Regions from separate parts of the Homo sapiens genome. Here region 2 is linked to region 1. Evidence: fine-mapped expression QTL. A gene starts in region 1. The other region holds a variant in brackets. All regions are shown on one strand. Distances are from middle to middle.

Region 1 (5,371 bases):
TACTGAATATAGCTTTATGGATATGGAATTTGTATACCATACAATTTACCCTGGTAAAGTGTACTCTACAGTGGTTTTTAATATATTCAGAGTTGTGCATTCATCATTACAATTTTAGAACATTTTCATCAACCCCAGAAAGAAACCCCATACCCAATAATAGTCTACATTTCCCTTCCACCCGTACCCCTCCTCGGCCTTAGGCAACACTAACATATTTCTCTCTCTGTAGTGCTTCTCCTGGACATTTCATATAAATGAAATCTACAATATGTGGTCTTTTGTGATACGCTTTGTTTTTTTTTTTTTTGAGACGGAGTCTTCGCTCTGTCGCCCAGGCTGGAGTGCAGTGGTGCGATCTCTGCTCACTGCAAGCTCCGCCTTCTGGGTTCAAGCGATTCTCCTGCCTCAGCCTCCTGAGTAGCTGGAAATACAGGCGCCCGCCACCACGCCCGGCTAATTTTTTTTGTATTTTTAGTAGAGACAGGATTTCAGTTTGTCAGCCAGGATGGTCTCAATCTCCTGACCCCGTGATCCGCCCGCCTCGGCCTCCCAAAGTGCTGGGATTACAGGCGTGAGCCACCGCACCCGGCCTGACAGGCCTTTTTCATATTGAATAATGTTGTCAAGGTTACTCTATGTTGTAGCATGTATCAGTATGATTTCATCCTTCCCTCATTTTGGCTGAATAAATATTCCATGATTACCACACTTTATTTATCCATTCATCAGTTGATGCGACAGACTATCCTTTTAAGAATGAAATGTTTATTCAAAAGGAAGCATAAAAAACACCATCACATCAGTATGGACTGGTGTATGGAACACAAGACAAATATACTTTTATGTGGAAAAGGGGAAACAAGAACCAGAATGAGTTATTCTCCATTCCTCACCCCTTTTACCTCCTCTCTCACCTTCCCCTCAAAGAGGAAATCTGGGAGGGGATGCAAGGACTCTCCAAAAGGGAATGGTCTCACTGCTTAGTGGGCCCTTCCCAGTCCCATCAGCCTGGTGTGGTTTATGTAAACCTCAAGACTAGTTAGACACAACTTTCTAGAAGCCTGCCCTGATCTCTCAGGCAGTTTTTAGTTCTATCTTCATATTCCCAGAGAACACTGTACTTAGATTCATTTGCATTTTTCTCATTGTATTGCAATGGTGAGCAGAGGAAAGAGCATCAGATAGTCCTAAATAGTTCGACCACTGACCACCTGCTGACCATGGAGGAGTCACCTACTTACAGGCTGCAGGGTTGTTGTGAAAATTAAATAAGGTAAAATAGGGGAAATTATTGTGATATAGTAGAGTGGAAGGGACTTAAAAATCATTTAGTCAACTTGACACTTCTTCTGAGACTTTTTTTTTTTTTTTTTTTTTTGAGACGGAGTCTCGCTCTGTCGCCCAGGCTGGAGTGCAGTGGCGCGATCTCGGCTCACTGCAAGCTCTGCCTCCCGGGTTCACACCATTCTCCTGTCTCAGCCTCCCGAGTAGCTGGGACTACAGGCGCCCACCATCATGCCCGGCTAATTTTTTGTATTTTTTAGTAGAGACGGGGTTTCACCATGTTAGCCAGGATGGTCTTGATCTCCTGACATCGTGATCTACTCGCCTCAGCCTCCCAAAGTGCTGGGATTACAGGCGTGAGCCACCCCGCCTGGCCAGAGACTACATTTTATACATATAAAATCTCAAGGCATTTACTTGAAATTTCTTGACGCAGACAATGTAATATAAAATGAGTTGCAAAGTTCGGAGAACGCTAGAGCCAGCTAACTCCTTGATGGCATTGCATTGCTAGGTCTACTTTCTTGCCCTAGCAAAAATGGCAGTTTCCTTTCTGGATTACTCCCTCCTCACCTTCTGTTAGTTTCAGAGTGACTTGTTGATAACTGCCAAGGTCCCCAGAAAGCGCCTAGCCAAAAAGGTTCTTCACTTCTCTTTAAAGATGTGCACTCCCTAATACATGAAACAGCATTTTCTATTTCTTAATTTTTCTCTCATTTCCAGCTGCTGCTTTCACCGTCTTCTGGTATTTTTTTGTTTGGTCGTCCACTGCTAAACTCCCAGCTCTTCAGAATTCAAAATGAGCTTTGCATCCAAGCTGTTGTGGGTTCGAATCCTGGGTCTATCTAGCGTTTCTTTCTCCATCTGTAAAACAGGGTTAAAAATACCTATTTTGTAAAGTTGTTCTCACATGTGGGTATTGAAGAGCTTAATAGTGTGGGTGGTGTTTTAAAGGTGACGCATCCTTACAACAGGAAAGGGCTTACCCTCTTCCGCAGTTCTGGCTTCGAGGAGGTCAAGCCCTTTAAGGTGGCATCGCCCTAAGTCGCAGGAGCGGGTCTCTCCGCCCCTCCCTCGGGCCGGGGGGCGGGGCCTCCTAATCCGGAACTGAAGGTCTTGCGTAGCCGGCACCGCCCATCTGCGTCCCGGAAGGAGCGAGCTTGCGGAGCGTGAACCAGTGAGTGAAAGCGGCGCCGCCCGCCGGCCGCAGGTGCGGCAAAGCCAGTGTCATCTGCCGGTTCTCTTAGGGCTCCCGGAAAGAAGGAGGGCTAGCCGCGTGCGTTCGCGCCGCGCCTCCTTGCGTTTCTGTTCCCCAAATAGGGCCTCTCCTTCTCCCGCCGCCCAGGCCCCTGCGTGGGCTGGACGCGTCAGCCCCACACATTAGCCTCGCTGCGGCGCCCAGACTCTGCTTTGCCTCCCCGTCCCGGTCCCTGGCCCCTGCCCTGTCGCCCGCCGCCGGAGCGGTGACCGCCCGGCCCGCCGTTCTTCTGCTGCCACCGCTGTCGGCACCATGGGCAGTGAGCAGAGCTCCGAGGCCGAGAGCCGACCCAACGATCTGAACTCCTCAGGTCGGTGTCCTAACCTCCCACCCTCCTCCAGCCCGCCCTGTCCCCTTGCAGAGCGGGCTGCCTCCCAGACTAGGGTCAGGGACTGCGGACGGGAACGCACAGAAAAAGCCTTCACCGTGCTAGTAGGAAAAAAAAAAAGTCACCATCTGTCCTGGCCTCGATTCCCCTGATGGAAGTGCGTGTGACTGCAAGCTAAGCCAGCGTGGGCGCCAGTGCCCTTATTTATTTTCAAAACAGCCGTTTCTCCCAGCTACAGCCTCCTGTTTAAAAGACGAGCTAATTAATTTTTGGCTCTAGTGCTCATGGCTGATGTAGTGAGATTTGGCTCACACAGTGGATGGATTATAGGACCTCTAAGAACAGTCTGTTTCTTAAAAACGGGTGTTAGAGGTTCCTTTTCTGAAGGGATATGTGATAGGTGTCCACTTGCTTTGAACCCTTTAGTGCAAAGGTCTCCAGAAACAGCTTTTTCTTCTCAGAAGGTGTCTTGGTCCGTTTTCTAATCTTGTAGAGGTTGGCCAGACAGCAGGCACTGGTGTTTTCCATTGTTGTTCTCTGTCCATGATTTTTAGACTTCTCTAAGCGTTTGAGACAAGAATGGGAGGATTATTGTGTTTGCAATACAGTGAGTGTTCAATAAATAGATAAAGCAGCTGATGTTTAATTGAGGACCATTTGCTGCTTTTTTTGTTACCCACACGCTAGGACAGCTGGGAGTGCTTTGGTTAAGCTCCGGGGTTGCTAACGCAAATTGGTTAAATCTGGGGCCTAAAAAGAGTCGCCGATTTTAGAAGTTCTCTGTTCTTGATAGGAGCTGTAATTCAGAAATAGGCAAGCTAATAGATCTAAGGGTGTTTCACTTTAAGGTGTGACTTTCAAGACTAGTTCAGACCTACATTCTGGGGACTGGATTGGGGCAGCTTTGAATGGTGAGCAGCATCTACTAGCTTTGCTACGTTTTTCTATTTCCTTGGAAGGGCCAGAGTGTCATATCTGTTATAAGAAATATAATAATTGCCACCTTTGACATTCTTGCCTCTATGGCAGGGCAGAAACATATTTTAGGGGGAAGCGGTGTGGCATCTTTTTAATTTGTTTTCTTGCCCATGAACCAACAGCATTCGAGCATTTCCGATGTTAGAATTTGCCTATTCCCCTGTGCCCGGTACTTTACATACATTTACATATAATTTTTGCAGTAATCCCATTTTACAGATAAAGTAGTAGAGGTTAGCTAGAGTGTTTTGAAGTCCCCTTTCCTCTGGTATCTGGGGAAGGAGGAATCACAATTTATAGCAGGAAAGATTTCTGGCATGGCTTTTGTAAAATGTTAGGTAAATTACCAAAACAGGTAAATAAATATTTCTTGAAAAGAAATAAAAGCAGCAGAGATTTTTCTAGAAGAGTGAATGCCAAGCCTCCGGAGACGAGCTTCTAGGAGGCAGAACAGTTCTATGGCATCCCTGGATTAACCTTTGAGATATGACTATAATGAGCCTGGGAATATTACCTTCTAGAGCATAAAACACTTTAAAGATTCATTCTTGTCCCAGTCTGGAAGATATTTGGGGGAGAGGATGATTTCTTGGTCTAGGGAGTCCTTTATAATTTGAATCACTTCCCTCCAAATGGATTACTTTCTCCCAAGGAACCTGAATTGATCTCCCTCTTTGTCCTCCAAATTTCTGATTTTTGCCTCAGCCTAGAATGGACTTACTGGCTATTTTTGCCCTGGACTAATGCTATAATTTTAAGAGTGAGGGGGCTGTAGTCCTAGCTACTCAGGCCCAGGTGGGAGGATTGCTGGAGCCCAGGAGTTTAAATCCAGCCTGGGCGATGTAGTGAGACTTGACTCTTTTTTTTTTTTTTTTTTTGAGACAGTCTCACTGTCACCTAGGCTGGAGTGCTGTGGCATGATCTTGGCTCACTGCAACCTCCGCCTCCCGGATTCAAGCAATTTTCCTGCCTCAGCCTCCCAAGTAGCTGGGATTACAGGGACATGCCACCACGCCTGGATAATTTTTGTATTTTTAGTAGAGATAGGGTTTCACCATGTTGGCCAGGCTGATCTCGAACTCCTGACCTCAAGTGATCCACCTGGCTTGGCCTCCCAAAGTGCTGGGATTACAGGCGTGAGCCACCGTGCCCAGCCGCCTTGACTTAAAAAAAAAAAAAAAAGAGTGAGGAGGCTGAAGCCTCGGGAATAGGCCAGTCATTCGGGGGTTGAGAACAGGTTTTTTTCCTGGACTTACTAAACATAGCTGGCTTGATGTGGTAGGGTGGATAGACAGCTTTGCAACTCCAGTGTCGCAGAGATGGGCCTTGTGTACCAATAACTTGTAGATGTCTAATTCCTTTCCTAACTGTCTAGCACTGCTGACTTTGGGCAAGTCACAGTTAAATTTTGTACCCTTTATTTCTCATTTTAGAAATAGGGAGATATATATATATATCTCAAGATAGCAGGAGAATTAAAGAGAAAGTAAAAACAATCTGCCTATACTTTTGTGTGCTGA
Region 2 (5,371 bases), 110 kb after region 1:
TCCATTTCACAAACAGCTTCGTGGTTGCCCTTTAGCTCCAGCTTGGATGGTTAGATTGCCCTGTCTGAAGCTGGATTTATTTTATTTTATTTATTTTTGGAGATGGAGTCTCGCTCTGTCACCCAGGCTGGAGTGCAGTGGTGCGATCTTGGCTCACTGCAACCTCTGCCTCCTGGGTTCAAACGATTCTCCTGCCTCAGCCTCCCAAGTAGTTGGGACTATAGGCGCACACTGCCACGCCCGGCTAATTTTTTGTATTTTAATAGAGACGGAGTTTCGCCGTGTTGCCCAGGCTGGTCTCGAACTCCTGAGCTCAGGCAATCCGCCCTCCTCAGCCTCCCAAAGTTCTGGTATGAGCCACCACGCCTGGCCAAGCTGGGTCTTTTGAATGGCTATGGGTGCTCAGTGAGGCAACCCTAGGTGATATCATAACACCTCTGCTTATCCAGAAGACAATTAGTATATATGTTATCTTGTTAGAATCCATGTGCCAAAAATAGAAATAGGAAAGGCAAATAAGGATATATCCCTAGATTGTCAAAATGGTGATTCAGAATTGTGTGAGATACTGGTTTACTGCCTACAGTCACATCAAATGTGTTACAATGAGCATGTGTCTGGGGGTTCGTGGAGTAAAGGTAGGGATTATGGATCAAGGACAATGTTACCTCAAGAGCAAAGGTCAGAGACATCAAAAATAGGCATCAACAGTTTTACCATCCTTTTCCAGATAGTCCATTGTTGCTTGCACCAAGTTGAGACTTTCTTTGCAACAAAGAATGGGGGAAACATTTAAAAGGTAATAACTTTCCCTACATGTGATCTAGTCTTCTTTAATGCAGTGCCACGTGCCAACAAAAGTCTCATAAAGCACCAGTGATACAGGGTCTTGCTCAGGAAATATGTGTAAAAGAGGGGAGCTGCTGGACTTCGGAGAGCTGGGGTCCAGTGTAGGTTCTGTCACTGTGAGATCTTCAAAGTCACGCAAACTCAAGTTTCCTCTTGCGGTTTTTTTCTTCCATGGAGCATAATGGAAGTAAGACATGATGTCAGCACGCATGAACAACCTGTTTGAACTCAGTGTGCTCATCTCAGCATTAACAGAAAGTGCCTTTACAAAAGCTTTGGAGACATTAAACACGGGCCCCAGCTGGATGTGGAAACATGTAGGGAAGTACATGCCATTTGACAAGTACCTGTGAAGATGGCTGTGAACAGTCTTCATCAGGTGTGAATCGGGGATGGATTGACTGCCAAGGACTTTAGACTTGATAAGTTAGAGCCTTGGAGGCCATTTCAGATAGAAACTCTTCAAGCATCTATCTAGTCTGGTAGGGTTGCGGGGTGGAGGGCCAGGAATGCCCTGCCAAGTAAAATGTGATGCCCGAGAAGGTTCCCAATTCAGGATTCCACCTGGCTCCCACGAGCCCCGCTGTCTCTCAGGTGTGTGGAGTGTTTCTCAGTGCTCATTGCAAGGCCACCCTGAAAAGGCCCAGCGGGTGACTGTCAGGACCACAGGACTCTCCTGGCTCACTACTTCCAAAGTGCTGAGCGCCAGACAGGGCTGCAGAGAACCCCGGAAAGTGTGCATTGTTTCCACATTATTTGGAGTTTCTCACTCCCATGTTTTTTTTTTTTTTCTCTTCTCCTTCTCCCCGTGCCCAACTAGCTGCTCCTCCTGCCCTGCAGGCACTCAAGCAAGAGGCCCGCCAGAGGACAGCAACACTGATGTGCTTCGGTCGCCTCCCGCCCCTCCTGCCCTCCCCACAGATGATAGCAAAAGGGAAATTATTTTTTCTTGGGGCTGGCTTTGGTCCCCCGTGTTTTCATGAGTTTGTTTTTGTGTCTCTCGAAGCCATTTTCAGAGGCTCTCTGGTACCGGGTGTTGAGCCCTTGTCCTGATGCAAGGTCGGGAAGGGGCGTGCTCCAGGAATAAACCAGAAGGAAGGGCTGGAGGAGCCTGGGAACCTTGGGATAGGAGTGTGGGCCTCAGTAGTTGAGCTGTTTTCTCCTGGCCTGGGAAAGAAACAAGGGGTGAGGGGGTGGAAGTGGGGTCCATGCTGAGGAAGGGGTGCAAGTGCCCAACACGATGGCGGTCTCTCTCTCTATTTTTATCTGGGTGATGGGTACTAAAGAGCCTCTGTAAGGGGAAGAGAAGAAGTCACGCAAGGGCAGCCCAGAGCCCGCAGTTTCTTTAATGGGGGAGAAGGGCACATGAGATAGTCCTCACAGTTTGACAAATGTGGTGTGTTGTAAGGACGGGAGCCTTGGTTGCATTTTTGGCCCTGGCAGGGAGAGCCTCCCTTCCATTGCAGTGTTCCCCGAGTGTCCGCCAAACTGCAGCCGTCCAGGGAAGAGAAGGATTGAGTGAAGAACATGCATTTTGGGGTTTGGGATTTTTGTTATTGTTGTTAGAAACAGGGTCTCACTGTGTCGCCCAGGCTGGAGTGCAGTGGCATGATCATGGCTCACTGCAGCTTCGACCTTCTGGACTCAAGCCATCCTCCCACCTCAGCCTCCCAAGTAGCTGGGATTACACGCACACACCACCACGCCCATCTGCTCCTAGTTTTTTTCTAGATAAGCAACCTGAGACACAAAGGATAAGCATTAGCAGCTCATACACGTGACAGAGCCAGATTCAGCCTTGGCCTGACTGATTTCCACATCCAGAATTCCCCTCATATAGGGAGATAGAAATCTCAGGATCTCAACAAGGTACAAATAACGCACATTCCCAGAACATAGAGCCAGGGACAGTCCCCTCTCAGTTCTCTTCTAAAGGTGGTTCTGGCACAACAGTTGATAAAGCTGTGTCCCTGAAGGGCTTTTTAGCCCTGGGTGCTTCCTGTAAAACTTGTCAGCTTCCACTGGATCTGCGGGACTGTGTCCCTCACAGGCTGGACACCCGGCCCTGCGGAGAGGACTTGATTAAACAAGGTATAATGTACTTCTCTTTCCCATCCACAGATGGATCTGTCTGTAGAAACTCTGTTCAGCTTCATGCAGGAGCGCCAGAAAAGATACGCCAAGTATGCCGAGCAGATCCAGAAAGTGAACGAGATGTCCGCCATCCTCCGCCGCATACAGATGGGCATCGACCAGACTGTGCCCCTGCTGGACAGGCTCAACAGCATGCTGCCCGAGGGCGAGCGGCTGGAGCCCTTCAGCATGAAGCCCGACCGCGAGCTCAGGCTGTAGCTGCTGCCCGGCCTGCCTGGGGCTGGGAGCCCCAGACACCGACACCCTGAGGACGTGTGGAGCTAAGGTCATATCATCTGACCAGGTCTGGAGGCTGGCGGGAGGCTCCCTGAAAGTGGGTGCGAAGGAGTC[C/T]GGCTGGCATGAAAATCTGACTTTGCCCAGCTCTTTTCCTTGATGCAGTTTCCCGGTGTGGAAGGAACCTAACCAGTTCTCGGTGATAACTGAAGCTGGAACGTGTGAATTATTAGGAATTCTTTGAAGAACTCTGCATTGAGAATTATTTTTATTTAGTTTTTTTTTTTTTTTAATTGAGAGTATATAGTCCAGTCCAGGTACCGGAATAAAAATATGGAGACAAGGGGAAAATATTTTACGAAGCTCTGTGTTCTCAACGCCCTCATGAACTTTTCAGTAGGCTGTCTGGTTTATGTGTGGTCAACTTGAAAAACTAATTGAATCTAGGTCTCTGTATTGTTCCTGTTTCTACCCTGACTGTTTCCGTCACACCAAGCCCTTATCTGGGGCGCGTCTTCCTGCCCAGGTGGAACACTGGCATTTTGTTGACTGTCAGGTTAGGTGTCCCTTAGTCGTCATCAGAAGCTGAAGCCTTCCTTTCCACACCCTCATCAGATTCATCTCCACTGATAACCGGTTTCCTTGATGCAGACATAGTTTAGCTTTCTTTGACTGCAGAGATGTCTCATTCCACAGACATTTCTTGAACCCATTTGATGTGTCCAATATTGTGCCAGGGATACAAATATGGCCGTATAGCCTCAGGCCTTCATTTCTGAAAAGAAAAAAGCTCAAAAAGCTGCTGAATTTCTCTGGGAGTTTAGGAAAGGAAGTTATTTGAGTAACAACAAAAGTGCTTAGTGTCGTACTTTACACATCATAGGTGTTCTAATGGAAGCAAGGACTGGAGAAGCAAAGAGTGGAATGTGAGGAGCAGACCTAGGCAGACACCTTGAGACTAAAAGTCAGAGCTGAAGGGAGTCGCTGGGGCCAGGACGGCATGCAGGCCTGTACCCTGTTCCCTAAGTTCCTGCAAGCGTCGGGAGGTGTGTTTTCAGATACCAGAAAGAGCCTTCAGTAGATTCACAAGATTAAAATTGATGCGCTTAATTTAATGTATCTTGGCTAAACTTGATCTGATTCTAATCTTGGTTTGAGACAGGGTCTTGTGCTGTTGCTCAGGCTGGAGTGCAGTGGCGCAATCATAGCACACTGACTCCTCAAACTCCCGGGCTCCGGGGATCCTCACGCCTCAGACTCCTGAGTAGCTGGGATTACAGGTGTGTGCCACCAAATCCAGCTAATTAAAAAAAATTAATTAATTTTACATTTTCAAATTCAAAAGAATAATACAATGAATATTCATATTTCTTTCACCTAGATTGACAAAAAGTGGTATATTTAAGACATCACCATCATTGTCTTTCTTCTGGAGTATACAGAACCTGGTTCTGAACACAGGGATATGTTTGTAGCTTCGAGGAATGAAGGGCTGTTTACAGAGCTACAAAAATAGCTTAGGTGCCATTATCCTCACTGCACTTAATACAGGTGACACATGAAAGCACAGAGTGGGTGGCAGTTCAAGCCTGCGAGGGCCGAGCCTTTCCACTGCTGCAGCTGTTAGTGGCTGGCACAGGGCAGGATGGCAGACCTAGTGCAGCACAAACAAACCACGCAGTCAGCCAGCTCTCCAGCCAACTGTGTCTACTTCTAAAGTAGAAGTTAGACAAAACATGGGGTTCACTTAGACTGGGGTCCTGAGTAGGTGATAGGCTACTTATTACTGGGTGGAAGCGGAGAAGTATGGCAGAAGAACAATAGGCAAATTCAATACTCCCGGAAAGAATTCTAGTTAGTTTAATATTTTGATGGCATGTTGTGGTTTCTGCAGTGTCGTGAACTTGGCTAAACTGAACTGTGTTCCCAGAATTCCCTTCCTTGTTTGTTTCTCTGGTGAGGGTTGGCCACGAGAGAGATTTGCATGAGGTTTGGAAGTGGAAGTAGAGCAACAGCCATGTGTATTCACTGGAAGTGGATGTAGGTCAGGCCCTGTTCCATCACGTGCACGTTACCATGGATCTCCTGCACTTGTGGTGTGGGCAGCCGCTGGGCCCACGGCTCCTCCCACTCCCGCAGAACTCTGCCTTTGGCT

Evidence for each region.
Region 2: its variant is fine-mapped to the expression of BORCS5 in prefrontal cortex (BrainSeq, PIP 0.92).

What each region holds. Positions count from the first base shown.
Region 1 is chr12:12,354,655-12,360,025 of GRCh38, forward strand. BORCS5 (BLOC-1 related complex subunit 5) reads left to right here and starts at 2,424. Exons shown (of 4, transcript NM_058169.6): 1 at 2,424-2,855. The coding sequence starts at 2,798. LOH12CR2 (loss of heterozygosity on chromosome 12, region 2) reads right to left here and starts at 2,413. Exons shown (of 2, transcript NR_024061.1): 1 at 2,274-2,413; 2 at 754-2,151. RefSeq lists enhancers at 2,209-2,887, 3,774-3,853 and a silencer at 2,754-2,833.
Region 2 is chr12:12,462,576-12,467,946 of GRCh38, forward strand. It overlaps BORCS5 (BLOC-1 related complex subunit 5), which reads left to right. Exons shown (of 4, transcript NM_058169.6): 4 at 2,971-5,371. The coding sequence ends at 3,201. Among named protein-coding and RNA genes, the nearest start is that of DUSP16, 98 kb to the right of the region's middle. The variant C/T (reference allele first, on the strand shown) is at 3,334.